2 separate regions of the Homo sapiens genome follow, and region 2 is linked to region 1. The links come from fine-mapping of genetic effects on gene expression. A gene starts in region 1. The other region holds a variant in brackets. All regions are shown on one strand. Distances are from middle to middle. Region 1 holds the start of NOL3 (nucleolar protein 3). Region 2 overlaps CES2 (carboxylesterase 2).

Evidence for each region. PIP is the estimated chance that this variant, and not a neighbour inherited with it, causes the effect.
Region 2: its variant is the best candidate, but not a certain one, in a credible set for the expression of NOL3 in whole blood (INTERVAL, PIP 0.55).

What each region holds. Positions count from the first base shown.
Region 1 is chr16:67,164,403-67,173,746 of GRCh38, forward strand. NOL3 (nucleolar protein 3) reads left to right here and starts at 6,136. Exons shown (of 4, transcript NM_001276309.3): 1 at 6,136-6,172. HSF4 (heat shock transcription factor 4) reads left to right here and starts at 343. Exons shown (of 13, transcript NM_001374675.1): 1 at 343-532; 2 at 1,120-1,228; 3 at 1,317-1,444; 4 at 1,544-1,668; 5 at 1,918-1,993; 6 at 2,156-2,220; 7 at 2,718-2,820; 8 at 3,073-3,197; 9 at 3,318-3,545; 10 at 4,429-4,534; 11 at 4,634-4,699; 12 at 4,877-4,946; 13 at 5,229-5,539. The coding sequence starts at 410. The coding sequence ends at 5,383. RefSeq lists silencers at 164-458, 208-447, 6,093-6,382, 8,023-8,186 and enhancers at 5,193-5,242, 5,733-5,882, 9,103-9,344.
Region 2 is chr16:66,940,100-66,956,851 of GRCh38, forward strand. It overlaps CES2 (carboxylesterase 2), which reads left to right. Exons shown (of 12, transcript NM_001365405.1): 4 at 123-256; 5 at 338-596; 6 at 1,025-1,123; 7 at 1,407-1,547; 8 at 1,669-1,749; 9 at 2,006-2,150; 10 at 2,549-2,686; 11 at 3,200-3,272; 12 at 3,740-4,997. The coding sequence ends at 3,926. It overlaps LOC107984881 (a long non-coding RNA gene), which reads right to left and starts at 14,100. Exons shown (of 4, transcript XR_007065090.1): 1 at 14,024-14,100; 2 at 12,704-12,808; 3 at 10,542-10,712; 4 at 8,781-8,832. RefSeq lists enhancers at 459-958, 1,018-2,217 and silencers at 10,458-10,507, 11,353-11,553, 11,553-11,753. The variant G/A (reference allele first, on the strand shown) is at 3,432.

The DNA.
Region 1 (9,344 bases):
CCTGGGGCTTCACTGTGCCTCTGGCCATTACCTTCTAGGACTTGCCCAGCCCACACCAGGTCGCGCACCGGCGATTTCTCCTGTAGAACAAAGAAGGAAATAGAGGGACCGAGAGGGGTGGGACTCGAACCCAAGTCTCCCACTCATCTCACCCCACCCCACCCCACTCCACCCCACCCCACCCCTCCACTCCACTCCACTCCACACATCCCATCCAGCCAGCCTTTTCTGCCTGCTGGTGCCTCGGCCGCTGTCCGAGCCCCGCCCCGCGGGCTTGCACGTGGCCCCCGCCTGACCCGGCGCCCCGGGGCGGAGTAGGGCGGAGCGGGCGGCAAACGCAGCACTTTCCGCGGCTTTGACGAGCCCGCAGCGGCCGGGCCCGAGCGCAGAGCCGGGCCGAGACTGCACCATGCAGGAAGCGCCAGCTGCGCTGCCCACGGAGCCAGGCCCCAGCCCCGTGCCTGCCTTCCTCGGCAAGCTATGGGCGCTGGTGGGGGACCCAGGCACAGACCACCTGATCCGCTGGAGCCCGGTGAGGGCCGGGGCCCCTCGATTCCCCCTGTGGTCCCGGGGTCCCTCCACGTCAGTGAACACCCATGCCCGCCCAACCCCCTCCTGAGACTGGGCCGTGGATCCCCGGATTTGGCCATTCAGAGAAGTTCACCTTGGAGGGGGTGTGCGAGAGGGGGGTTTCCTCTGCGGCCGAAGAAGGGTTAGGAGCCTGCCTTCTGAAGACCTAGAGTCCGAGGGACCTTCGAGGCCATTTAGTTCCCACCCTACCCCATCCGACAGATGGGAAAACAGAGGCCGGGAGATGGGAAGGGCTGGTCTAGCTCAGGGTCACATTGCGGGGCTGGGAACCCCGTCAGCCTCTCCTTTCTGAGAACTGAGTATGGAGTCAGGGTCTGGCTGGGGGTAGGGACTCACTGTGGTCGCTCCAGGCTAGGCCTCGGAGCCCGTTCTGGCCTGGCCTCGACCCATATCCCCGTAAGCGGCAGGCCTGGACCCAAGAGTGAGCATGAGTGTGTGCGCGCGCTGGAGCGCAGGACTGGCCGTGAGCGGGCACCGCTCACCCTCCTGGTCTCCGCCCGCACGGTGGGCGGGCGGCGTTCTTGGTAGAGCGGGACCAGTTTCCTCGTAAGCGACCAGAGCCGTTTCGCCAAGGAAGTGCTGCCCCAGTATTTCAAGCATAGCAACATGGCGAGCTTCGTGCGCCAACTCAACATGTGTGAGTCCCTACGGCCGGGCGGGGAGCGGGGATGGGGGACTCGGTGCCGGGGATGGGGCGACCCACGCCCCCACGCCCCACTCCCCAGACGGTTTTCGGAAGGTGGTGAGCATCGAGCAGGGCGGCCTGCTTAGGCCGGAGCGCGACCACGTCGAGTTCCAGCACCCGAGCTTCGTGCGCGGCCGCGAGCAGCTACTGGAGCGCGTGCGGCGCAAGGTGGGGGCGGCCTGCGGGAATGAGCAAAGAGGAGGAGGGGTGCTGGGACTGCCTGCCTTGCTCCTGCGACCCAGTCCCGACGGTGCCTCCCGCCTGCAGGTGCCCGCGCTGCGCGGCGACGACGGCCGCTGGCGCCCGGAGGACCTGGGTCGACTACTGGGCGAGGTGCAGGCTTTGCGGGGAGTGCAGGAGAGCACCGAGGCGCGGCTGCGGGAGCTCAGGCAGTGCGGGGGCGGGCGGGGAAAGAGGGGACAGGGGTGGGGGGTTCGGGATGAGACCATAACTGGCCGGCCAGCAGTTCTGGGCAGCCCCTTCCTCTCTCCTGCCTTGGCGCCTCCATCTAGACTTATGGGCGATCTCTGGGATGGCCAGTCAGCGGGGTGGTCTCCTGGGTCCCCAGCCTCGCCATTCTGTGGGGGGTGGTGACTGGGCGAACTCTCAGATGCCTCAGCACCCTCCCACCCCTTCCTCAGGCAGAACGAGATCTTGTGGCGGGAGGTGGTGACACTTCGGCAGAGCCACGGTCAGCAGCACCGGGTCATTGGCAAGGTGTTCCTCTCCCCAAGCCTCGCTTCTCCCTCCCACTCCTCGACACCCCATTCCACCGCCCAGTCCCCCGGCGCCCCTGTTAAGCCTTCCTCCCTCACCTGGAAGTGCGGGGGTGGGGGGGCTGTGTCCAAAGTATGAATTAAACCTTTGCTTTCTCTTCAGCTGATCCAGTGTCTCTTTGGGCCACTTCAGGCGGGGCCGAGCAATGCAGGAGGCAAGAGAAAGCTGTGAGTGAGAAAGCCAAGAAGGCCCACACCCACTTCCAAGACCCCCCAGAAGTCCCCTTGCAAGGACCCCTTCTCCTCTGGAAACTCCTTCACCGGGAATCCTCATTCCTCCCCCTGCGCTACAGGCTTCCTCACCCCATCTAGGATCCACTTCCCCCCAACTCTGCCACCTGGTATCCCCACTCCCAGATCCTCCCATTCCAGGACCTTATTCCCAAATTCCTACCCCAGCAGCCCCTTCCCCCTCCGGCAAGGCTTCCCAACAGCTGAGACCCTGGGGCTCAAACCAGGTTCCCTCCCTCCCCTCTCTACCCACAAAGGGCCCCCATCTCTAGGGGGAGCCCCTTCCACCTCCAGCATGTGACTGACACCCTAGCAACAGGCCTCAGCTCTGCTGACTTGGCTGCTGGGGCCTGAGGGAGGGAGGGAAGTGCAGGCCGAGGTGCATGGGGGCTGACCCTGCCCCACCCCTGCCTGTGCCCTGATCGACCACACAGGTCCCTGATGCTGGATGAGGGGAGCTCATGCCCAACACCTGCCAAGTTCAACACCTGCCCTCTACCTGGTGCCCTTCTGCAGGACCCCTACTTCATCCAGTCGGTAGGTTTGTCTTCTTCCCCCTTCCCAAGGGCATGGCTGGGCTTATGGAGAGCCTGTTCCTTCTCCCCATCCCCTAAAAGGAAGAGAAGATGGAAGCCAGCCTTCCCCCCAACCAGACCCAGGCCCTCCAGCATGGACTGAGCCTCCTCCCTCAAACCTTCTCCCTTAGACCTGGCCCAGGTGGGTGTTGGTGGGGTTCTGGCTCTCCCTGTGCCTACAGGCCAAGGGCTGGGCCTAGCCTTCTACTTACAGCCTCTCCCAGAGACAAATTTGGGCCTTAGCCCTCACAGGGCCAGGGGCCCCATCATCTCTGACATCCCAGAAGACTCTCCATCCCCTGAGGGGACCAGGCTTTCTCCCTCCAGTGATGGCAGGAGGTAAGGGGGACAGGGCTGCCCCTGAGGGGCCTGTGGGGGAGGGCCTGGCAGCCCAGATGGCTGTAGGGGTAGAGGGAGAAGTCAGTGCCAGGGTCTGGTTGAAGCTTTTCTCTGGTGCAGGGAGAAGGGCCTGGCACTGCTCAAAGAAGAGCCGGCCAGTCCAGGGGGGGATGGCGAGGCCGGGCTGGCCCTGGCCCCAAACGAGTGTGACTTCTGCGTGACAGCCCCCCCGCCACTGCCTGTGGCTGTGGTGCAGGCCATCCTGGAAGGGAAAGGGAGCTTCAGCCCCGAGGGGCCCAGGAATGCCCAACAGCCTGAACCAGGGGATCCCAGGGAGATACCTGACAGGTGAGCAGAGCCCCAGCTGGCCCATGAGCCCTGTGATAGAACAGCCCTTACCAGCCCACAAAGCTTCCTAGCCATTTGACTCCATGATACTCACCTGATTTCTTGGCCCCAGCATCAGAGTTCTGTGGAAAGCAGAGCCTCCCAGTCAGGGCACTCAGCATCTGCGGAAGGGCTTAGGAACCTACATATGAAATGAGTTCCCTGGGGTGACTGCAAAGTACACAATAGTTTAAGAAGCATTGGTGGCTATGAGGTGGCTCATGCATGTAATCCCAGCACTTTGGGAGGCTGAGGCGGGCAGATCACTTGAGGTCAGGAGTTCAACACCAGCCTGGCCAACATGGTGAAACCCCCCGCCTCTGCTAAAAATACAAAAATTAGCTGGGTGTGGTGGCGTTTGCCTGTAGTCCCAGCTACTCAGGAGGCTGAGGCAGGACAGTCGCTTGAACTTGGGAGGTGGAGGCTGCAGTTAGCCAAGACAGTGCCATAGTGACATAGTGGGTGACATAGTGAAACTGTCTCCAAAAAAAAGAAAAGAAAGAAAGAAGGAAAGAGAGAGAGAGAGAGAAAGAAAAAAGAAAGGAAGAAAGAAAGAAATAAAGAAAGAAGAGAAAGAAGCATGGATATTGATACTTGCATAGGGAGGGGAAGGGTCCCAAAGCCCCAGCTCCACCACCCAAACTTCAGGTCCCAGGTAGGAAGCAGAGGCACTTTCTCTGTGCCATTTATGGCAGGAGTGGGGAGGTTGGGGGTGGAGAGAGGATGGGGATCCTCTCCTATCATTTTCTAAAGATTGGGGGATTAAAATCTTGATGCATCTGGGTTCCTTGGGAACTTAATGCGGGGTGGACACTGCAGGCCAAAAGCAGTTCTGTCTGCACAGGGGGCCTCTGGGCCTGGAAAGCGGGGACAGGAGCCCAGAGAGTCTGCTGCCTCCGATGCTGCTTCAGCCCCCTCAAGAAAGTGTGGAACCTGCAGGGCCTCTAGATGTGAGTACCCCTTCTGCTGAAACAGGGGCATGAGACCTGGTGGGGTCTAGCTCTCTGTGGAGCCTGGGGAGGGCACCACTGACCCAGAGCTCTCCTCAGGTGCTGGGCCCCAGTCTCCAAGGGCGAGAATGGACCCTGATGGACTTGGACATGGAGCTGTCCTTGGTAAGAAGTGGGTCGGGGAGGGCAGAGGCCAGGGGTGGCTGAGTCAAGCCCTCTGGTCCATAGCTGTTCTCTGTGAGCCAAAGCCGTGTCTCTAGAAGAATTGTCACAGTGATTTCCCAGCTGTCCCCCTCAGCTGCTAGGTCCCCTCCCCAGCTGCTCCCTGCGGTTCTCACGCAGATGCAGCCCTTGGTTCCAGAGCGGGGTGAGCCTGAGCTGGCGGTCAAGGGGTTAAATTCTCCAAGCCCAGGTAATGGTTGTGATGACTCCTACCTGGGAGGACGCCGTGATTGGGCTGAGCTACCTTGATTGAGTGAGGGGGCAATCTGCAATTTGCAGGGAAATCCTGAGTTCAGGCTGCACTGCAGAGCGTTCCTTGAGCCACCCATGCCCTCACCATTGGGCGAGAGTGGGGAGGTTAAGAATGGATGTTTTATCCTAACTGAGCAGAAGGCAGGCGGGCAGGGCTCTCCTTCCCTGAAGAAAGGAGGGGGAACATTTCCCCTGGTGAGCGCAGTCCCACTTCTCCTAGGGAAGGACCCCACGCTCGGGGCCCCACTCCTGCTGGATGTCCAGGCGGCCTTGGGAGGCCCAGCCCTGGGCCTGCCTGGGGCTTTAACCATTTATAGCACTCCTGAGAGCCGGACTGCCTCCTACTTGGGCCCGGAAGCCAGTCCCTCCCCCTAAGACCCCGCGCCTCTGAAGGGGCTTGGAACCAGTCCGCCGCTGCACATCCTTCTTGGCTTCCTGGCGCCCCCTATCGGGGGTGAGCGAAGCCCCCACTACTAAATGGCCTCTCTCCACTACCCCGACTATCCCTGCACATAAACTCCGTTTTTTTTTTTTCTGTTTCTGGTCTCTTTTCTCTATCGACCAGGGAGCACAGGAGTTATGGGTGGGGGGTGATTTTGCATTTGTAGAAGCGTCCAGATACTAGGTTTTTAATAGAGGAACCCCAGGAGGGTGGAGGTGCTTGGGGATCCGGTGCCTAGCTCCCTTGCTTAGGCCCGGGTCCAGGGCTGGCGCGGGGCCGCTGCAATCTCTGGGAAGCGGGGGCTTCTGGGTCGCGCTCAGCTCTGCAATGCATGCGTTCTGTGATCCTGGTGAGTTGGTATCCTTCTCTGAACTTCCTCTGTGACAGGCAGAGAAGAGGGGTCGATGACAAGATAGATGGAAAGCACCTGGAAATTGGCAGGCCCTGAGTGGGCGCTGGACGTGTGGGGCCGCGGGCCGAACTGCCCCCTCCTGGCCTCATCTCCTGGTGCGCCCCGGGTGGGGAGGGAAAGCTGACTACATGCACGTCCCCAGCCAGCGCGCGGCCTCCGCGGTGTGGCTCCTAGTGCCCGGGGAAGAACCCTCACCCTCCCTATTCCCAGCAGCCCTGGCCGCCCCGCCCCCGCCGCAGCTGCTGCACCCACCCCCACCCTGCCCGGCCCTTTCTGCACCGTCATCTCCTGCCCCGCCGAGGCTTGACCCGTGAGTGGGGACGCCCAAAACGGGCCAGACCGGGAGCCCCACTCCCGGCTGTGGGAGGGAAGGGAAACCGAGATTGGGCAGAATCAGCGCCCCACCACCCGCTGCGGCGCTCGGGGGTCGGGGGGGCGGGGTGGGTAGGACTGTGGGCCCCGCCCTGCCGCAGGACTCTCAAGCTCTGGGACTGGGTGGAGGGAGGTAAGGGGCGGGGGGGGAAAATCCGTGCAGTCGCACATGCGCAAAGGCTCTTCACTGTCCCAAGACCCTGGCTTCCTGGCCAAAGAGCCCGCGCAGCGAGGTGGGGTTGGGGGCTGGGACCCAGCTCCGTGCCCCGCCACCTGGCTCTCTGGGAAGAATCGGACCTGTCACCCTCGAAGGACTGGCCGCTAAATAACTTCGGTATTGAGAGCTGTGTGAGCCTCAAAGGGAGGGCCCAGACCAGCTGGAGTCTCTACCCCCAGACAGGATAAAGGGCAGGACTTGGGGTCATAGGAGGAGGCGGCTAACATGAAAACAACTTAGGTTGGAGAGAAGGAGGGGCCAATCCAATCTGCACCCTCCCTGTGTCTGTCCCGAGTAGGTGCTGTCCCCCTCTCCCTTCCTTTGCCCACCGATTGGAGGGACACTCTGGAAAACTCAGTTGAAGAAAGCGGAGAGTCTGCGTGTACACAGTGCAATGATGTCAGTTAATGCACTAGTGAGGGCATGTGTTGTTCACGGTACACAGAAGAAGGAACCACCAGCCCTTGGGACACTTAGGCATTGGTGTAGACAAGGGAACATTTGAGTCCTGGACGATGGATAGGTCCACGGAGCGGAGGGAGGAGAAAAGGATTCCAGTCTTAGCGATCAGCATCAGCAAAGGCTCCGAGGTGCCAGAGGCATAGTGAGTTCTCCGATCCCTGGCTGGTGGAGGGAAGCTGGGAAGGGCCTGGCTGTCCAGGGTGGTGGGAGGAGGCTAGAGTAGCCAGACCAGATATTTTGGGTTGTCTCTGATGGGCAGTGGGGTGTGGGGGGGAGGTAGATAGGTATTTAGGATGGAATTCTGCTAGACAGGAAAATATAGTTCAGTTCCTCATAGTTCAGGCTGGAGCAAGTAAGATTCCAGTTTTACCACTGAATCTCTGAGCCTGTCTCCTCATCTGTAAAATGGGAACAGCAATCCTAGCCCAGAGGGTTGTCAAAGTCACTGTGCTATCGGGCCTGGCAGAATGGGAGTGAGAGGGGCTCAGAGGGACTGTTACAGGACATGAGGTGACGATGGTGGGGTGGCAAGGCAGGAGCTGATGGAGACTCACTGAGAAGTGGAGAAGCAAGATTCATCACATACGGGACATAAAGGGAGATGGAGGGGCAGGGGGTAGTCCTGGTCTCGGCCTGGTGGGGAAGGGCTTCAATGGGAGGAAGCCAGGGTGTGAAGTGACGGGGGAGGTATAGTGTGACACCAGAGGGTACTGAGAAAGACCTGGGAGGCAGGATGGCGGCTAGGACTAAATCCTCTCTCCCAGAGAAGGCCGAGCCTCCTAGAGCCAGAGAAGGAGGCAGAGGAGGGACAGCAAAGGGAAGAAGAGATGGGAGGATGCCGTGTGAACAAAGCCAAGGCGGGGAGGAGAAGAAGTTATTATCAGGGTGGGGGTGGGCTGAGGGCATGGTTCAAGGCCTGATGTCTTTGCCTCCTAATGCCGGGGGTCTTGCTGGCTGGGTCAGGCCACTCACAGGAATGGGCCATAATCCTTGGTTGACAATAAATGGACAAAGCAGCTGGGTGCGGTGGCTCATGCCTGTAATCCCAACACTTTGGGAGGCCAAGGTGGGTGGATCACGAGGTCAGGAGTTCGAGACCAGCCTAGCCAACATAGTGAAACCCCGTCTCAACTAAAAACACAAAAAATTAGCTGAGCGTGGTGCGGGCACCTGTAATCTCAGCTACTCGGGAGGCTGAGGCAGAAGAATCGCTTGAACTCAGGAGGCAGAGGTTGCAGTGATGAGAGAATGTGCCACTGCACTCCAGCCTGGGCAACAGAGTGAGACTCTGTCAAAAAAAAAAAAAAAAAATGGATAAAGCAGATTGACTCTCCCTAATAGCCGCTGTTGGTAGAGATAGTCTCTCAAGAGCCAGGCATGGTGGTTCACATGGTGGTTCACAAAGTGCTGGTAATCCCAGCACTTTGGAAGGCTGAGATGGGAGGATTGCTTGAGGCCAGCAGTTCGAGACCAGCCTGATCAATATAGCAAGACCAGGACAGGCGCGGTGGCTCACGCCTGTAATCCCAGCACTTTGGGAGGCCAAGGCAGGTGGATCACGAGGTCAGGAGTTCAAGACCAGCCTGGCCAACATAGTGAAACCCCGTCTCCACTAAAATAAATAAATACAAAAAATATATATAGCAAGACCCCACCTCTAAAAAAAAAAAAAAAAAAAAAGGCTGGGCACGAGAATCACTTGAGCCTGGGAGGCGGAGGTTGCAGTGAGCCAAGATTGCGCCACTGCACTCCAGCTTGGGCAACAGCGAGACTCCATCTCAAAAAAAAAAAAAAAAAAGTCTCTCAAAATAGTGCGATCCATGGAGGAAAATCAGTCCAAGTTCGGCAAGTATTTGTCGGTATCCTGTATGAGCTAGGCCTTGGGTACTTCAAGATCAAACAACAAATGTCTGTAGGTAATTCCCAGGTCAGCAGGGAGCCAGGTGGGTCAGCAGAGAGACAGTCACATTAGGAGTTAGGGCTTCAGTAGGGAGACAGGTGGGTCTCAGGTGATGTCAAGAGATCTTGGTCAGAGCTAGGCCTGAAGAAGATTCTGGTATCTCTGCTCAGGAATCAGGGGACCAGGAAGGGCCAGGAGACTACATTGGGGTTGCACTATGGTGGTGGTGTTGGTGGGAGGGTGTAGAGGCGGGGCTTGTCCTGGAAAGTTGGATATCAGGGTCAAGGTAAGGGGAGAGGGGCAGGGAGGCTCTCAGCACTTTGTGCTCTGGGTTCAGAGGGGACTGGAGGATAGAGTATGGAAGCAGGGAGCTCTGATCCTGGGTTCTGCAGGGCCAAAGCAGGAGGCAGAAGGCTGGACTTAGTAAGTGGTGAGGATGGTGAGAGAAATATTCAGCAGTCAGACTGGAAAGGACTTGTCTGCAAGCTGGGTGTGGAGTATCAGCATCAATCCTAGGTTTTTCTGCCTGGT
Region 2 (16,752 bases), 220 kb before region 1:
AATTTGTGCTGGAGATCTAATGGGGAGGTAGACAGAGGCAAAGCACTGGTTGGTCTAGGTAGTGGCCCTGGTGGGGTTTGGGCTGGGTGGGAGCATCATGGTAGCTGCCTTGATTTCCCCAGGTGATGGTGTGGATCCACGGTGGTGCGCTTGTTTTTGGCATGGCTTCCTTGTATGATGGTTCCATGCTGGCTGCCTTGGAGAACGTGGTGGTGGTCATCATCCAGTACCGCCTGGGTGTCCTGGGCTTCTTCAGGTGAGACTAGGGCTGGGCTGGGCAACCCGGGCTGAGCGGGGCCAGGACAGCCCTGTGATCCCTGTCCCTGCTACTTCTCAGCACTGGAGACAAGCACGCAACCGGCAACTGGGGCTACCTGGACCAAGTGGCTGCACTACGCTGGGTCCAGCAGAATATCGCCCACTTTGGAGGCAACCCTGACCGTGTCACCATTTTTGGCGAGTCTGCGGGTGGCACGAGTGTGTCTTCGCTTGTTGTGTCCCCCATATCCCAAGGACTCTTCCACGGAGCCATCATGGAGAGTGGCGTGGCCCTCCTGCCCGGCCTCATTGCCAGCTCAGCTGATGTCATCTCCACGGTGAGTGCCCTCAGCTGAAGAGGCCTAGGCCTGCTCCCTCCCCTCATATCCCTCAGAGCCTCTGTCTGTTAAACGGGGATGACAAGGGCCATCGGGAGCATGCTCCAGGAGCTGCTGCCTACCGTGGAATTGCTGGGGGGCTCCAGGGTCAGAATTCACATCCTTCTGCCATTGCAGAGGCCGAGCTTGTTCTGTGGCTCCTGTGCAAAGTTGTCACCCTAGGGATCCCCACCATGAGGAGAATCATCTAGGCGGATGGGATGGCCCCTGTGTCTGGGACTTCTGAGTTGGAACAGTGTCAGAACTGCAGGAACTCATACGAAGTACCCTCTGAGATTTGGGGTACCCCTGTTCTTGGCCAGGGCCTTGGGCAAACTCCTCTCCTCTACCTGGAAGGATGAGCCAGCCCCTGCCTGGTCCCTTTACAGGTGGTGGCCAACCTGTCTGCCTGTGACCAAGTTGACTCTGAGGCCCTGGTGGGCTGCCTGCGGGGCAAGAGTAAAGAGGAGATTCTTGCAATTAACAAGGTTGGTCTAAATGGATGTGGGTGTAGAGGAAGGGGTGCAATAGGCATGGGGCTGGCAGGCCTGCACGGCCGTCATATTCCCTGGGCACATTACCTCATCTGCATGCCTGAGTGTCATAGCCCTGGGTCGGGACTGAAGGTCGGTGCATGCTGAGCCAAACAGTAATCTCCTGGGGTGGGTATGAGCATCCAGGGATAAACTGGGAAGGAGTGGAAGGTACTCAGAGGGCATCGGAAGATGTCTGGGACCTGACCTTGTTCCCTGACCTTACATTTCCCCTCAGCCTTTCAAGATGATCCCCGGAGTGGTGGATGGGGTCTTCCTGCCCAGGCACCCCCAGGAGCTGCTGGCCTCTGCCGACTTTCAGCCTGTCCCTAGCATTGTTGGTGTCAACAACAATGAATTCGGCTGGCTCATCCCCAAGGTGAGCCCCAACCCAAGCCCACAAGTGCCTGGGGAGCCCATCTGGTAGTGGGGGGTGTTCAGGGCTTCATAGCTCCAGGCTCATCCCATCCCCAGCTACAGACTCTCTCCTGGCCATCCAGGTCATGAGGATCTATGATACCCAGAAGGAAATGGACAGAGAGGCCTCCCAGGCTGCTCTGCAGAAAATGTTAACGCTGCTGGTAAGGCTCCTGGGGTCCCTCGCCAATGGAGACGGGCTCCTCTCCTGTCCTGAGACAGAGGAAATTCAACCCCCAGATACCCTTCCTATGTAGTGACCCCCATGAGCAAAGGCCTGGGTGTGTGTGTTTAGGGGTGGGGTCACCTCAGAGCCTCGCCTTTGCTCCCCCTTCCTGTGCCATCCCCAAGCCCGAGACCACCTCCTCCCTGCCCCTGGCATCCAGTCTAACCTGCCTCTTCCTGATCCACCTGGGGTAGATGTTGCCTCCTACATTTGGTGACCTGCTGAGGGAGGAGTACATTGGGGACAATGGGGATCCCCAGACCCTCCAAGCGCAGTTCCAGGAGATGATGGCGGACTCCATGTTTGTGATCCCTGCACTCCAAGTAGCACATTTTCAGTGTGAGTATATTTGGACCAAAGCCTGGCGGGCAGGGTACAGCTCAGGGCTGTGGGTCCCAGGTGAGACCTGCTGCTGTCCGGGTCAGCACTCATGTTTATTGGGCTCCGGGGACACTTGACATCCATCATTGCAGTAAATCCTCATGGCTAGCCCAAGAATCCGACATTTCCCCCATTTCACAGACGAGCAAATTGAAGTTAGGGACCTTCAGTGACTTGCCCAAGATGACACAGCAAAGAATCGCAAGTCCTTTCCTCTATTCCTGCCCCAGCCTGGGGCTCCACACCCCATTGTCCAGATTCCAGCCAGCTTTGGACCTAGGTATCTTATCACCATGGGTGAGGCAAGAAGTCTTCAGGGGGAGGGGCCACCGTGTCATGGGCTGTCCACCCCACAGGTTCCCGGGCCCCTGTGTACTTCTACGAGTTCCAGCATCAGCCCAGCTGGCTCAAGAACATCAGGCCACCGCACATGAAGGCAGACCATGGTGATGAGCTTCCTTTTGTTTTCAGAAGTTTCTTTGGGGGCAACTACAGTGAGTCTTCTTCCTTTCCCGGGAGGTGGGCTGGGATTCTGGCTGGGTCTCTGAGCGATGATTGATTGTCCTCACTGCCCAGATAAGGAAACTGAGGCTCAGAGAGAGGATGAGATCAGGTGTCCAAGGTTTTATAGCTCCAAAAGCTGCACCAGGATTAGAATTCACGACTCTTCAGACTGTGAGCTGTGCTCCCTCTGCCTCTCCCCAGCCATGGGTGTCTGGCCTGGTGCAGAACAGGTGTTTCAGGGACATGTTTATTTCTTCAGTGACTCCCAGAGATAGAAGGAAGAAGGGGCCTTTGGGGCCATGAAGGAGCCCAGGATGGAGTCAGCCAGAGCCTGGTCTACAGGGAAAGTTTGGAAAAGGGGAGGGCTGGCTTCTGAGGGCAGTGGAAGAAAAAGCGGAGAAGCAGGACTGGGGACCGAGGTCTCGGGGGCCAAGGACGAGCTCCACCTGGGATGCTGAGGTTGGACATCCTGATGAAGACACATGTCCTCTTCCTCTTGGCAGTTAAATTCACTGAGGAAGAGGAGCAGCTAAGCAGGAAGATGATGAAGTACTGGGCCAACTTTGCGAGAAATGGGTGAGACAGCACACCCCTGCCTCAACCTCCCCGATTGGGGGACTTGTGCCCATCCAGTGCTCTCCTAGTCTGGGGTGACCTCATGAGCACACCCGCATCCTTCATCACATGATGGCCCCTTCCCCAGCTCCGGGACCCACTCAGACAGGGTGGGGGTGC[G/A]TGGGGCAGTGGACACGCTCTATCTCTCCAGTCTACCTGGAGGGTGGGCGCCAGTGCTGTGCCACCGTCAGGGCCTCCCTCTCAGAGAGAGGGACACAACAGAGCTGGCTGCCCTCCCCCAACCCCCACTGGTGCTGACACTAGCCAGAGGGAGCTTATTTCCTGTTTCTGGAAGCCTCCCCACTCATTCCCCAAGCCCACCTGGCCTGCTTGGCTGCCTTGCCTGACCAGACTCAGGGTGCTCAGGTCTGGGCTTCGGGGGCCCAGAGTGACCCTCATACTGCCCTGCTGGGATGGCATGTCTACAGGAACCCCAATGGCGAGGGTCTGCCACACTGGCCGCTGTTCGACCAGGAGGAGCAATACCTGCAGCTGAACCTACAGCCTGCGGTGGGCCGGGCTCTGAAGGCCCACAGGCTCCAGTTCTGGAAGAAGGCGCTGCCCCAAAAGATCCAGGAGCTCGAGGAGCCTGAAGAGAGACACACAGAGCTGTAGCTCCCTGTGCCGGGGAGGAGGGGGTGGGTTCGCTGACAGGCGAGGGTCAGCCTGCTGTGCCCACACACACCCACTAAGGAGAAAGAAGTTGATTCCTTCATTCACTTCGCCATTCATTCATACTTCCGTCCATCCATTCAGAAAGCATTTATTAAGAATTTACTCAGGCATGATGGCCCATACTTGTAATCCCAGCTATTGGGAAGGATGAGATGGGAGGATGGCTTGAGGCCAGAGGTTTGAGACCGACCAGCCAGGGCAACACAGTGAGACCCCTTCTCAAAAAAAAAAAAAAAAAAGAGAGAGTGTGTGATTAGAAGCTAAATAGGAAAGTTTTGAGCTTCAAGTCAGTGAGGAGTAAAAAAGATTTTTAAAAAGCAAAGAAAACAAAATATAAGGGAAAAATATGAGAAAAATAAAAATAAAAAGAGAATAATAGGCCAGGCACTGTGGCTCATGCCCCTAATCCCAGCACTTTTGGGAGGTCAAGGTGAGCAGAACACCTGAGGACAGGAGTTTGAGACCAGCCTGCCCAACGTGGTGAAACCCCATCTCTATGAAAAATACAAAAATCAGACGGGCACAGTGGTGGTGCCCACCTGTGATCCCAGCTACTCAGGAGGCTGAGGCAGGAGAATTACTTGAACCTGGGAGGCAGAGGTTGCAGTGAGCTGAGATTGTGCCACTGTACTCCAGCCTGGGCAACAAGAGCGAGACTCCGTTTCCAAAAAAATAAGAGAGAATAGAAGAAGCTACTGCATGATGTTAGTTACCAAGCCTGCCATGGGTCCTCTCTTGCTAGACACACTCCATAGATCCCCCCACTGAGCTGTGGATGGGCAAACCCCGGTGGAATCCCACCCTCCCCAACACCCCACTGAGCCCTGGGCCCCCTCCTCCCTTCCTCACCTCCACCTTCTCCCTGCCTTCTCTCTTCTCTCGTCTGAGCCCCCAGGCCTTTTCCACTTTGAGGGAGGTGCTTCGAAGAATGTTGCCCACACCTAAGTGTTAGAAGCCTATGTCCGTTCATCCCTGAGAGGTCTGAAAGAATAAAAATAAATTCTAAAAAAAGCCTCTGTCTGCCTCTCCCCAAGCCCCAAGTGCTCTTACATCTGTGAGTGGCCAGGCCGGGTGCGGTGGCTCACACCTGTAATCCCAGCATTTTGGGAGGCCAAGGTAGGCGGATCACCACATCAGGAGATCGAGACCATCCTGGCTAGCATGGTGAAACTCCGTCTCTACTAAAAGTACAAAAAATTAGCCTGGTGCAGTGGCACACGCCTGTAGTCCCAGCTACTAGGGAGGCTGAGGCAGGAGAATCCCTTGAACCCGGGAGGCAGAGGTTGCAGTGAGATGAGATTGCACCACGGCACTCCTGCCTGGGCCACAGGACGAGACTCAGTCTCAAACAAACAAACAAAGAAACAAAAACAAAAAACAAAAAAAATCTGTGAGTGGCCAATAGGAAACCTGGTTACTGGAATTCCTAGTGTTTTAGTCCATTCAGTTGCTATAGCAAAAATACTACCGATTAGACCCGGTGCAGTGGCCCACACCCATCATCACAACACTTTGGGAGGCCGAGGTGGGTGGATCACTTGACCCCAGGAGTTTGAGACCAGCCTGGCCAACATGGTGAAACGCTGTCTCTACTAAAAAGACAAAAATTAGCCAGGCTCTGTGGTGCACACCTAGAATATCAGCTACTCGGGAGGCTGAGACACGAGTATAACATGAACCCAGGAGGTAGAAGTTGCAGTGAGCTGAGATTGCACCACTGCACTCCAGTCTGGGCGACAGAGACCCTACCTCAAAAATAAGTAAATAAATAAATAAACAAATAAATAAATATTACCGGTTAGGCCGGGTGCAGTGGCTCATGCCTGTAATCCCAGCACTATTGGAGGCCGAGGTGGGACTCCTGAACTTGAGCCCAGGAGTTCCAGACCAGCCTAGGCAGCATGGAGAAATGTCATCTCTACAAAAAAATAGAAAAATTATTTGGATGTGGTGGCACACACCTATAGTCTCAGTTACTCAGGAGGCTGAGGCGGGCAGATCACTTGAGCCTGGGAGGTCAGAGCTGCAGTGAGTCGTGATTGCACCACTACACTCCAGCCTGGGCAACACAGCAAGACCCTGCCTCAAAAAAATAGGGCTTCCAATACTGATATAAAACTTAAAATACTACAGGTTAATATTATAAACTGGGTGCCTTATAATGACAGAAATGTATTGCTTACAGTTCTCGAGGCTTGGACATCGAGGATCAAGGTGCCAGCAGATTTGGTGTCTGGCAAGGACTTGTTCTCTGGTTAATAGATGGCAACCTCAGGCCAGGTGCGGTGGCTCACACCTGTAATCCCAGCACTTTGGGAGGCCAAGGTGGGGTATGACCTGAGGTCAGGAGTTCAAGACCAGCCTGGCCAACATAGTGAAACCCCATCTCTACTAAAATACAAAAATTAGACGGGTGTGGTGGCAGGTGTCTGTAATCCCAGCTACTCAGGAGGCTAAGGTAAGAGAATCACTTGAACCTGGGAGGCAGAGGTTGCAGTGAGCTGAGATCACAGCACTATACTCCAGCCTGGGCGACAGCACGAGACATTATCTCAAAAATAAAAAATAAAACAAGCCACCCACCCAACTATCGATGTCCTGCAGAGGTGCCTAACCCCACTTTTGTCAGAAGCCAGACCGGGCTTGTCCATAGGCCCCTGAGCCTGGGCCTCCTGCACAGTGGCCAGGAAAGCCAAGCTGCTTCCTCAGTCGCCCGTCTCCTGAAGGTTGCTCTTCTTCTCAGTGGTTCTACAGACACTGTAAGGCCCATACTCACAGGATATTAGCACACCTGCTAAGAGATTCCTGTCCGCTGGCTACCAGGGGCCTCTCCATCCAGGGAAATGTCCTCTCACGTTTCAGAATTTCCCTGCCAACCTTTCAACCCCCTGAGCATCCCCAAATTCACCATGTGTGTCCACACGATTACTTTTCCTACTTACCTCATTGTTGTCCCTAGACTTTTCTCCTTCCCCGCTCTGCAAAAAACCTCATATTTTATCTCAGTGTGCAAAGGTGGCCAATTGTGTTCAATCGGCCTCTTGGTTTCACCAAAGTATATTCTCTCTGTCATTAAGAGGCTATATTTCTGTCCCATAAACCCTAATAATCCCCTTATGCCCCTACTGCTGATCAACTTGCCTCTCAGGGCACCCGTTTTCCATGGGGAAAGTCTCCCTTCTTTCCAGCCAGGGCCCGTAAGTCCAATTACAGAGCCTTTTGAAGTTTGGGGTGAAAGACCAGGACACCCACATTGCCCATTTTGGCCACCAGGTGGCAGACAAGGATAATATTAAGCCTGGAATGACTTGAACTTGAGAGAGGGAGGAGACTTTCCTTTCAATGAACACTGATTGGTGCATAATGTTCCCACTACATTCTGAAAGCGTTTATTGTGCACCAGCTGCATGCATGCCTCTGTATGTTTTTCAGTTCTGCAGATGTACAATATACCTTCCCAAAGTCAGTTCCCAGGATTACTGTTTAGACTTAATAGTTCTTTTTTTAACAGCTTTATTGTGAAATAACTTACAATTTACCCCCTGCTCCCCCTTTTTTTTTTGAGACAAGGTCTAGTCCTGTCACCCAGGCTAGAATGCAGTAGTGCAATCACAGATCACTGCAGCCTCCACCTCCGGGCTTCAGACACTGTAAGGCCCATAGTTACAGGACCATAGTACACTCCCGTTCCCAGACCAGTTGGTCGCCTCTGGCCTGGCAGGGCTCCCAGTGTCTCGGGACCTCCAGGTGACGCGCCTGCCTCCCCTGCTGCAACAGAGGCCTGGGAGTGCCGGGTCCCCATCGCTCGGAGCGGCAGGCGCTCGTGAAATGTTCGTCAAGAGGATAAATGACCATGGCCCTGGTCTCCGCGGGAGGTGAGGAAACTGAAAGCCACCGAGGAAAAGGGGGGCGCTCCTTAAGAAGTGCCGCGGTCACGTGTACGTTTCAAAAGAATGGCGTGACTGAGTAGGGAGGGGACCGCGGAGACCCTCAGACCCTGGACTGTAAGGAGATGAGGGGCCGTGAAGGGGAACCCAGGAAACTGAGTCCTGAAAGCAAGGAGGAGCTTCCAGAATGAAGGGCGCCGTCACGCCTCCCTGCCTTTGCTCAAGCGGTTCCTTCACCCCGATCAAGTTCCTTCCCATTTCTCCAACTGTGGGGATCCTGAACGTGCACCTCCTCAGAGAAGCCCTCTTGGGATCTCCAATTCTAGTTTATTGCCCCCTCCTATCGATCCCCCAGCGCGCTCATCGGGCCTGTGGACAACGACAGGTTTGAGGAGAGGATTCTCTGGATCGCGGAGGACTACAGAAGCCGCGCAGCCCCTTCTGAGGATGCCAAAGGGGCCCGGGCAGAAGGGAAGTGGCCGTGCCCGGGCCTGCCTACCACTAGATCCCCACCCACCTATGACTGTTCAGTCCTGCTCTCCTACCAACCCACCTTTCCCGGCCCAAGTCAGCGCACCCCGCCGACTCCCTGCCCAGTCCAAACTCCGAGGCTGGGCAAGGCACTGGATCCACGGCTGGACCGACCCGGGGCAGCCTCTGGGTGAACAGCAGCGTGTCCGTCGGCAGAGAACCGAGACCAGCGAGCCGACCATGCGGCTGCACAGACTTCACGCGCGGCCGAGCGCGGTGGCCTGTGGGCTCCTGCTGCTTCTCCTCCAGGGTCACTATGAGGCTCCCGCGGAGGGGTGACAGGGACCGGGCTCAGATCTGCCAAATGCTGCGGAGGCAGAACCTGACAGTGCGGGAGGGCAGGCGCCTGGGAGGTAGGAGCTGGTGGAGATGACAGCGTGGAACTCGTGAGCCCCACGCAACGCCTCCCTGCCGCCCAGGGTGGGCTCCTAGAAGCACAGAAATGGTCGGGCTGCGGGACACCACAGCGAGGAACCAGCGGAGTACAGGGGCCCCAGGAGCGCCGGGACATGCCAGGCCGGGTAGACAGCCTCGGGTCGGAGTGAGTGAGGGATTGGGGTGTGGGGATTCAGTCCATTTCCCTCTTACGATTGTGGCTGTAGCCTGTGCTGCCGGCCGGTAATAACAGTAATAGCTTCTGGCAGCAGCTGGCTCTCAATGTGTGGCGTCCTTGGCCAAGGGGGCGCGCTGAGCCCTCCAAAGGGGCCTCAGACAAGGTTAGTGGTCCTTGGGGAACAGAAGCCCCCAGGCTCCAAATCCTAAAGCAGATCTAAGAGGCCGCAGTGGCTGGGTGCGATTGGCTCACTCCTTTAATCCCAGCATTTTGGAAGGCCAAGGGGGAGAATCGCTTGATCCCAGGAGTTGGAGGCCAGCCTGGGCAACATAGACTCAGAGTGTACAAAATAATTAAAAGAAATTAATGGGCTGTGGTGGCCTGTGACCTCTAGTCCCAGCTTCTTGGGAGGCTGAGGTGGGAGATCACTTTAGTAGGGGAGGTTGAGGCTGCAGTGAGCCTTCATCACACTATTGCACTCCAGCCTGGGTGAAAAAACAAAAATCTGTCTCCAGAAACAAGAGCCAAAGAGCTCGTGGTGTCCCTCACGCCATTTACCTCATCCTGGGCAAGGGCACAACTTGGCTTCCAGGGCAAAGGTGAAGGCTCTGTGTGCCTGCCAGGCTTCTCCAGGCCCTTTTCGAAGCTCCGGGAGTGTTTTGGCCTTTGGTCCTCTCACCTGAAACTCTCCTAAGTGTATGATCTGACTGCCTCTCCCGACCCTTTCCCAATTTAATCTGCCCAGGTGGAGTCCATATTCGCCCCATGGTGCACTCCTGCAGGGCTTCCTCCCATGCCTGCCCTTGATCACATTCTAGAATTCACCAGGAGCCCAGCAGGAAGATCTGCCTGGCCTCACAGATGGCTACCTTTTGAAATATTTTGGGCCAGACACAGTGGCTCACACCTGTTATCCCAGCACTGTGTGAGGCAGAGATGGGAGGATCACATGAGGCTAGGAGTTAGAGACCAGCTTGGGCAACAAGACTTGTCTCTACCAAAAAAAAAAAAAAAAAAAAAAAAAGGACTCTCAGGCATGGTGGCACACAACTGTGTTCCCAAGTACTTGGGAAGTTGAGATGGGGGGATCTCAAGCCCAGGAGGTGGGGGCTGCAGTGAGCTGCAATCACACCACTGCACTCCAGCCTGGGCAACAGACGGAGTCCAATATTTAGATGTATATTATATTATATTATAAACATATGTGTGTCTGACAAATATATTATATATTTTGGTAGAGACAGGCTTTCACCATGTTGGCTAGGCTGGTCTCGAACTCCTAACCTCAAGTGATCCACCCACCTCGGCCTCCCAAAGTGCTAGGATTACCAAAGTCACCCACTGCGACTGACCTGTTTTCTGACTTTTTATTATGAAACTGGGCTCAGATTTCCCAAATCCTACAGAAGCAGAACCTGAGGTTCCAAAAGGGAAAGTGCCAGGCAGGTGGGAGCTGGTGGGAATAAGAACAGCAGGTGAACCTCCCTGAGGCACAGAGAGGGTCAAGCCTGCTCAAGGGCTGCACAGCACCAAAGGATGAGCCAAGTCTGAGGTAGAAACAGTAGTATAAGAAATCCAACATACCCATTGTCCGTCTTCAGCAATAACAAAGATCTTGTTTTTGTTTCTGTTTTAAATCAGCTTTCTCAGGTTGAATATAACCTGGTGTTTTCCGGATGGCCACCTCTCTCTTGCATCATTATTTGAAACAAATCCCAGACATCATATCATCTGTAAAGTTTTCATCATGTCCTACTAAAGAAAAGGAACATATATATGTATGTGTGTATTTCCACAACATAATATGTTCTCAATTTAATCAAATATATGGTCGTGTTCTTTAGTATTTATAAATGATACTTGTATTAATACAAGTTTTTTTTTAAATCAGGATTCAAATAACGTTCATACTTTGCAAATAAGTAGATATTTCTTTTTTCTCTTTTTTTTTTTTTTTTGAGATGGAGTCTCACTCTGTTGCCCAGGCTCACTGCAACCTCTGCCTCTTGGGTTCAAGGGATCCTCATGCCTCAGCTCCCAAGTAGCTAGAATTACAGGCACATGCCACCACGCCTGGCTAAGTTTTGTATTTTTAGTAGAGATAGGGTTTCACCATGTCAGCCAGGCTGGTTTCAAACTCCTGACCTCAGGTGATCCACCCACCTTGACTTCTTAAAGTGCTTGGATTACAGGCGTGAGCCTCCATGCCCCACCAATTGTCTTGGCTTTATAGTTAGGAGTGGAATTGCTGAGTCATATGGCAACTCCATGTTTAATCCCCTGAAAAACTGCCAGACTGTTTTCCAAAGCAGCTGCACCATTTTCCTTTCCCCTGGCAATGTATGAAAGTTCCAAGTTTTCCATATCCTTACCAACACTTATTATTATCTGTCATTTTTATGTGTTTCTTGAATCTCTTTCAGTCTTCAGATTTACCATCTGCCTCTCTTTAATTTTCTTTCTAAATTTTGTTGCATGTGGAAGAAACCAGTTTATTTGTTCTGGAGAGGATCCCACCATTTAGGTTTTGCTGATTGCATCCGGGTGGTGTCTTTTAACAGTTCTTCTATCCCCTGTCTACTGTGTAAACTTGTATTTATATTCTAGAGGCATAATCAGATTTGGGTTTTAGGTTTTATTTTGTTTTGTTTTTTGGAGGACCACTTCACATGTGGTGCTGCATACTTCTGATAGAAAATATGTAACGTCTGATTATCTTGCTTGTTGGGATACCACAAAATGAGTGGTTGACATCACAGTGAGAATTCAATGTGCATTTCTCTTACTATGAATGACTTAAAGATCTCTTCGTTTATTTGAGAGACACTGATTTGTAGTGCTTATTCTGAACACATTCTTATGCTACTTTTTCTGTTGTATACATGACATATTCTTTGTTTGTAGAAATTCTTTATCGATTAAGAGGACTGATTTTCTCTGTTAGGCAATTTTCCATCACTTCCTCCCTCCCTGATCCCCACAGCAGTCACACTATGTTTTTTCTGGAGACTGGGTCTTGCTTTGTTGCCTAGACTAGAGTGCAAAGGCGGGATCATAGCTCATGCAGCGTCGAATTCCTTCTGCCTTAGCCTCCTGAGTAGCTGAGTAGCTGGCCCAGAGTTTGAGACCAGCCTAGCCAACACGGTGAACCCCTGTCTCTACTAAAAATACAAAAATTAGCTAGGCTTGGTGGTGCACACCTATAATCCTACATATTCAGGAGGCTGAGACACAAGAATCACTTGAACTCAGGAAGCGGAGGTTGCAGTGAGCCAAGATCGCACTACTGCACTCCAGTCTGGGTGACAGAGCGAGGGTCTGTCTCAAAAAAAAAAATAAATAAATACTACCGGTTTCGGCCAGGCACGGTGGCTCATGCCCATAATCCCCGCACTTTTGGATGCCGAGGTGGGCCTCCTGAACTTGAGCCCAGGACTTTGACGCTAGCCTAGGCAGCTTGGAGAAACGCCATCTCTACAAAAAAAAAATTCAAAAATTGGCTGGATGTGGTGGCACGCACCTGTAGTCTCAGTTACTCAGTAGGCTGAGGCGGGCAGATCACTTGAGCCTGGGAGGTCAGAGCTGCAGTGAGTCGTGATTGTGCCACTACACTCCAGCCTGGGCAATACAGCAAGACCCTGTCTCAAAAAAAAAAGTTTCCTATACTGATATAAAACTTAAAAAAAAATTTTACAGATTGATGTTATAAACTGGGTGCCTTCATGTGACAGAAATGTATTGCTTACAGTTATAGAGGCTTAGAAGTCCAGGATCAAGGTGTCAGCAGATTTGCTGTCTGGCAAGGACTTGTTCTCTGGTTAATAGATGGCAGCCTCTCATTGTGTGCTCCCCTGGAGGAAAGGGAAAACAAGCTCCATCTGGCCTCTTTTGTAAGGACACTAATCCCCTTCACCTCCTGAAGTCCCCACCTCTTGACACCATCACATTGGGGATTAGGTTTCACCATACAAATTTTTGAGGCAATACAAACATTTAAACCATAGCACTTAGAGCTCCCAGATTTCAGCCACCAAGGTCACCAACTACTGAAAATGTAAAAGTTCCTATACTCCCCTTTTGTCCCACTAAATGTCGTCTATCATTGACATTTAAAACAAGCCACCTTTACAGGCCAGGTGCGGTGGTTCATGCCTGTAATCCTAGCACTTTGGGAGGCCAAGCCAGGTGGATCACCTGAGGTCAGGATTTCGAGACCAGCCTGGCCAACAAGGTGAAACCCTGTCTTTACTAAACACAAAAATTAGCCAAGCGTGGTGGCACATCCCTGTAATCCCAGCTACTTGGGAGGCTGAGCCAGGAGAATTGCTTGAACCCTGGAGGCGGAGATCATAGTAAGCTGAGATTGTGCCACTATACTCCAGCCTGGGTGACAGAGCAAGACTCAATCTAAAAACAAAAACAAAAACAAACAAACAAAAACAAGCCACCTCCTCGCCTATCTGTGTCCTGCAGAGGTGACTCAACCCATTTTTGTAAGAAGCAAGACTGGGCTTGTCCACAGGCCCCTGAGCCTGGGCCTCCTGTACAGTTGCCAGGAAAGCCAAGCCGATTCCTCAGTGGCCGTCTCCTGAAGGTTGCTCTTCTTCTCAGTGGTTCTACAGACACTGTAAGGCCCCTACTCACAGGATCGTAGCACACTCGCGAAGATGTTTACCTGTGGGGTGTGCCCCGGAAGTGGGATTGAGGGTCCAAAGGTCCAGGCATATCTAAGAAAAGAGATTCCTGTTCCCTGGCTCCCAGGAGCCTCTCCACCCAGGGAGATGTTCTCTGGCCTTTCAGAATTCCCTTGCCAACCTTTCAGCCCCCTGAGCATCCCCGAACTCACCATGTGTGTCCATATGATTATTTTCCTACTTACCTCATTGTTGTCCCTAAACTTTTCTCCTTCCTGGCTTCGCAAAAATCCTCCTCATATTTTATCTCAGTGTGCAAAGGTGGCCAATTGTGTTCAATCGGCCTCTTGGTTTCACCAAAGTATATTCCCTCTGTCATTAAGAGGCTGTATTCTAGTCCCATAGACCCTAATAATCCCCTTATACCCCTACCTCTGACCAACTTGCCTCTCGGGGCACCGGATTTCCAGGGCGAAAGTCTCCCTTCTTTCCATCCACGGCCTTTAAGCCCAACTACAGCTTTTTGAAGTTTGGAGCGAAAGACCAGGACACCCACTTTGCCCATTTGGGCCACCAGGTGGCAGACAAGGATAATGTTAAACCTGGGCTGACTTGAACTTGAGAGAGCAGGGAGACTTTCCTTTCAATAAACACTGGTGCATAATGTTTCCACTACATTCTGAAAGCATTTATTGAACACCGGCTGCATGCCTGTCTCTGTATGTTTTTCAGTTCTGCAGAGGTACAATATAGTTTCCCAATATACATTCCCAGGATTACTGTTTAGACTTAATAGTTATTTTTTAACAGCTTTATAGTGAAATAACTTACAATTAAATTTACCTCCCCCCACCCTTTTTTTTTTTTTTTTTCTGAGGCAAGGTCTCGTTCTGTCACCTAGGCTGGAATGCAGTGGCACAATCACAGCTCACTGCAGCGTCCACCTCCTGGGCTCAAGCCATCCCCCACCTCAGCCTCCCAAGTAGCCAGGACCACAGGCACATGCCACCATGGCTGGAGAACTTAAATTTTTTTATTTTTTATTTTTGGTAGAGGCGAAGTCTCACTAGGTTACCCAGCTGGTCTCCAACTCCTAGGATCAAGTGATCTTTCCATCTAGGCCTCCCAAATTGGTAGGATTACAGGCAGATGTGAACCACTGTGCTTGGCCTAAACTCACCCATTTTCAGTGTGCAGTTTGATCACGTTGAGTAAATGTATAAGACATGCAAACACCACCACGTGGAGTTTTACAATATTTCTATCACTCCAAAATTCCCTCAAGCCCTTTTGCAGTCAATCGTCCTGATCCATGCTCCTAAGCAACCATCGAGTTGCTTTCTGTTGCTATAGTTTGCATTTTCTAGAATATGAATGAAATAATACAAATTATAAATTAATATGATAGTACTAATTATATAAATGAAATAACTTGCGATTGGCTTCTGTCAATTGTGTTTTTGAAATTCAACCAGTAGTTCTTTTCTTTTATCGTGGAGTGGTATTCCATGTATAAATATACTCCCTTTCTTTTTCTTTAGAGACAGGATCTTGCTATGTTGCTCAGGCTGGTCTTGAACTCCTGGGCTTAAACAATCCTCCCGCCTCGGCCTCCCAAAGTGCCGGGATTATAGAAGTGAGCCGGTGTGCCTCGCCAATATACGCAACTTTATTAATTCATCAGTGTAGGGGTGGCCTGCCCCTCCACACCTGTGGGTATATTTCATCAGGTGGGATGAGAGACTGAGAAAAGAAATAAGACACAGAGACAAAGTATAGAGAAAGAAAAGTGGGCCCAGGAGACTGGCGCTCAGCATATGGAGGACCTGCACCGGCACCGGTCTCTGAGTTCCCTCACTTTTTATTGATTATTATTTTCACCATCTCAGCAAGAGGAATGCGGCAGAAGAGCAGGGTGATAGTGGGGAGAAGGTCAGCAAGAAAACATGTGAGCAAAAGAATCTGTGTCATAATTAAGTTCGAGGGGAGGTAGTATGCCTGGATGTGCACGTAGGCCAGATTTATGTTTCTCTCTGCCCAAACATCTCAGTGGAGTAAAACATAACAAAGCAGCATTGCTGCCAACATGTCTTGCCTCCCGCCACAGGGCGTTTTTTTTCCTATCTCAGAATTGAGCAAATGTACAATCGGGTTTTATACCGAGACATTCCGTTCCCAGGGGCAGGCAGGAGACAGAGGCCTTCCTCTTATCTCAACTGCAAGAGGCCTTCCTCTTTTACTAATCCTCCTCAGCACAGACCCCTTATGGGTGTCGGGCTGGGGGACGGTCAGGACTTTCTCATCCCAAGAGGCCATATTTCAGACTATCACAGGCGGGGAGAAACCTTGGACAATACCCGGCTTTCCAAGGCAGAGGTCCCAGCAGCTTTTCGCAGTGCGTTGTGCCCCTGGTTTATTGAGACTAGAGAATGGTGATGACTTTTACCAAGCATACTGCTTGTAAACATTTTGTTAACAAGGCACGTCCTGCACAGCCCTAGATCCCTTAAACCTTGATTCCATACAACACATGTTTTTGTGAGCTCAAGGTTGGGGCAAAGAGGTTGGGGCAAATTGGCTGGGGCAAAGTTACAGATTAACAGCATCTCAGGGCAAAGCAATTGTTCAGGGTACAGGTCAAAATGAAATTTCTTATATCTTCCCTTTCTACACAGACACAGTAACAGTCTGATCTCTCTTTCTTTTCCCTACAATCAGTGGGTGCACATTTGAGTGACTTCCATTTTTGGGGTATTTTTATAAAGCTGCTGTGAACATTTTCAGACAAACCTTTCATTTCTTTGGGGTAGATAGCTGAGATTGGACACTCACCATATAATGCCATTCTGGGTCATATGGCAAGGGTGTGTTTCACTTTTAAAGAAAACGCCCCCTATTTAAAGATCTACACTAGGCTGGGCGCAGTGGCTCACGCCTGTAATCCTAGCACTTTGGGAGGCCGAGGCAGATGGATCACCTGAAGTCAGGAGTTTGAGACCAGCCTGGCCAACATGGTAAAACCCCGTCTCTACTAAAAATACAAAGATTAGCCGGGCATGGTGGCGCATGCCTGTAATCCCAGCTTCTTCAGAGGCTGAGGCACAGGAATTGCTTGAACCTAGGAGGCACAGGTTGCAATGAGCTGAGATTGCACCACTGCA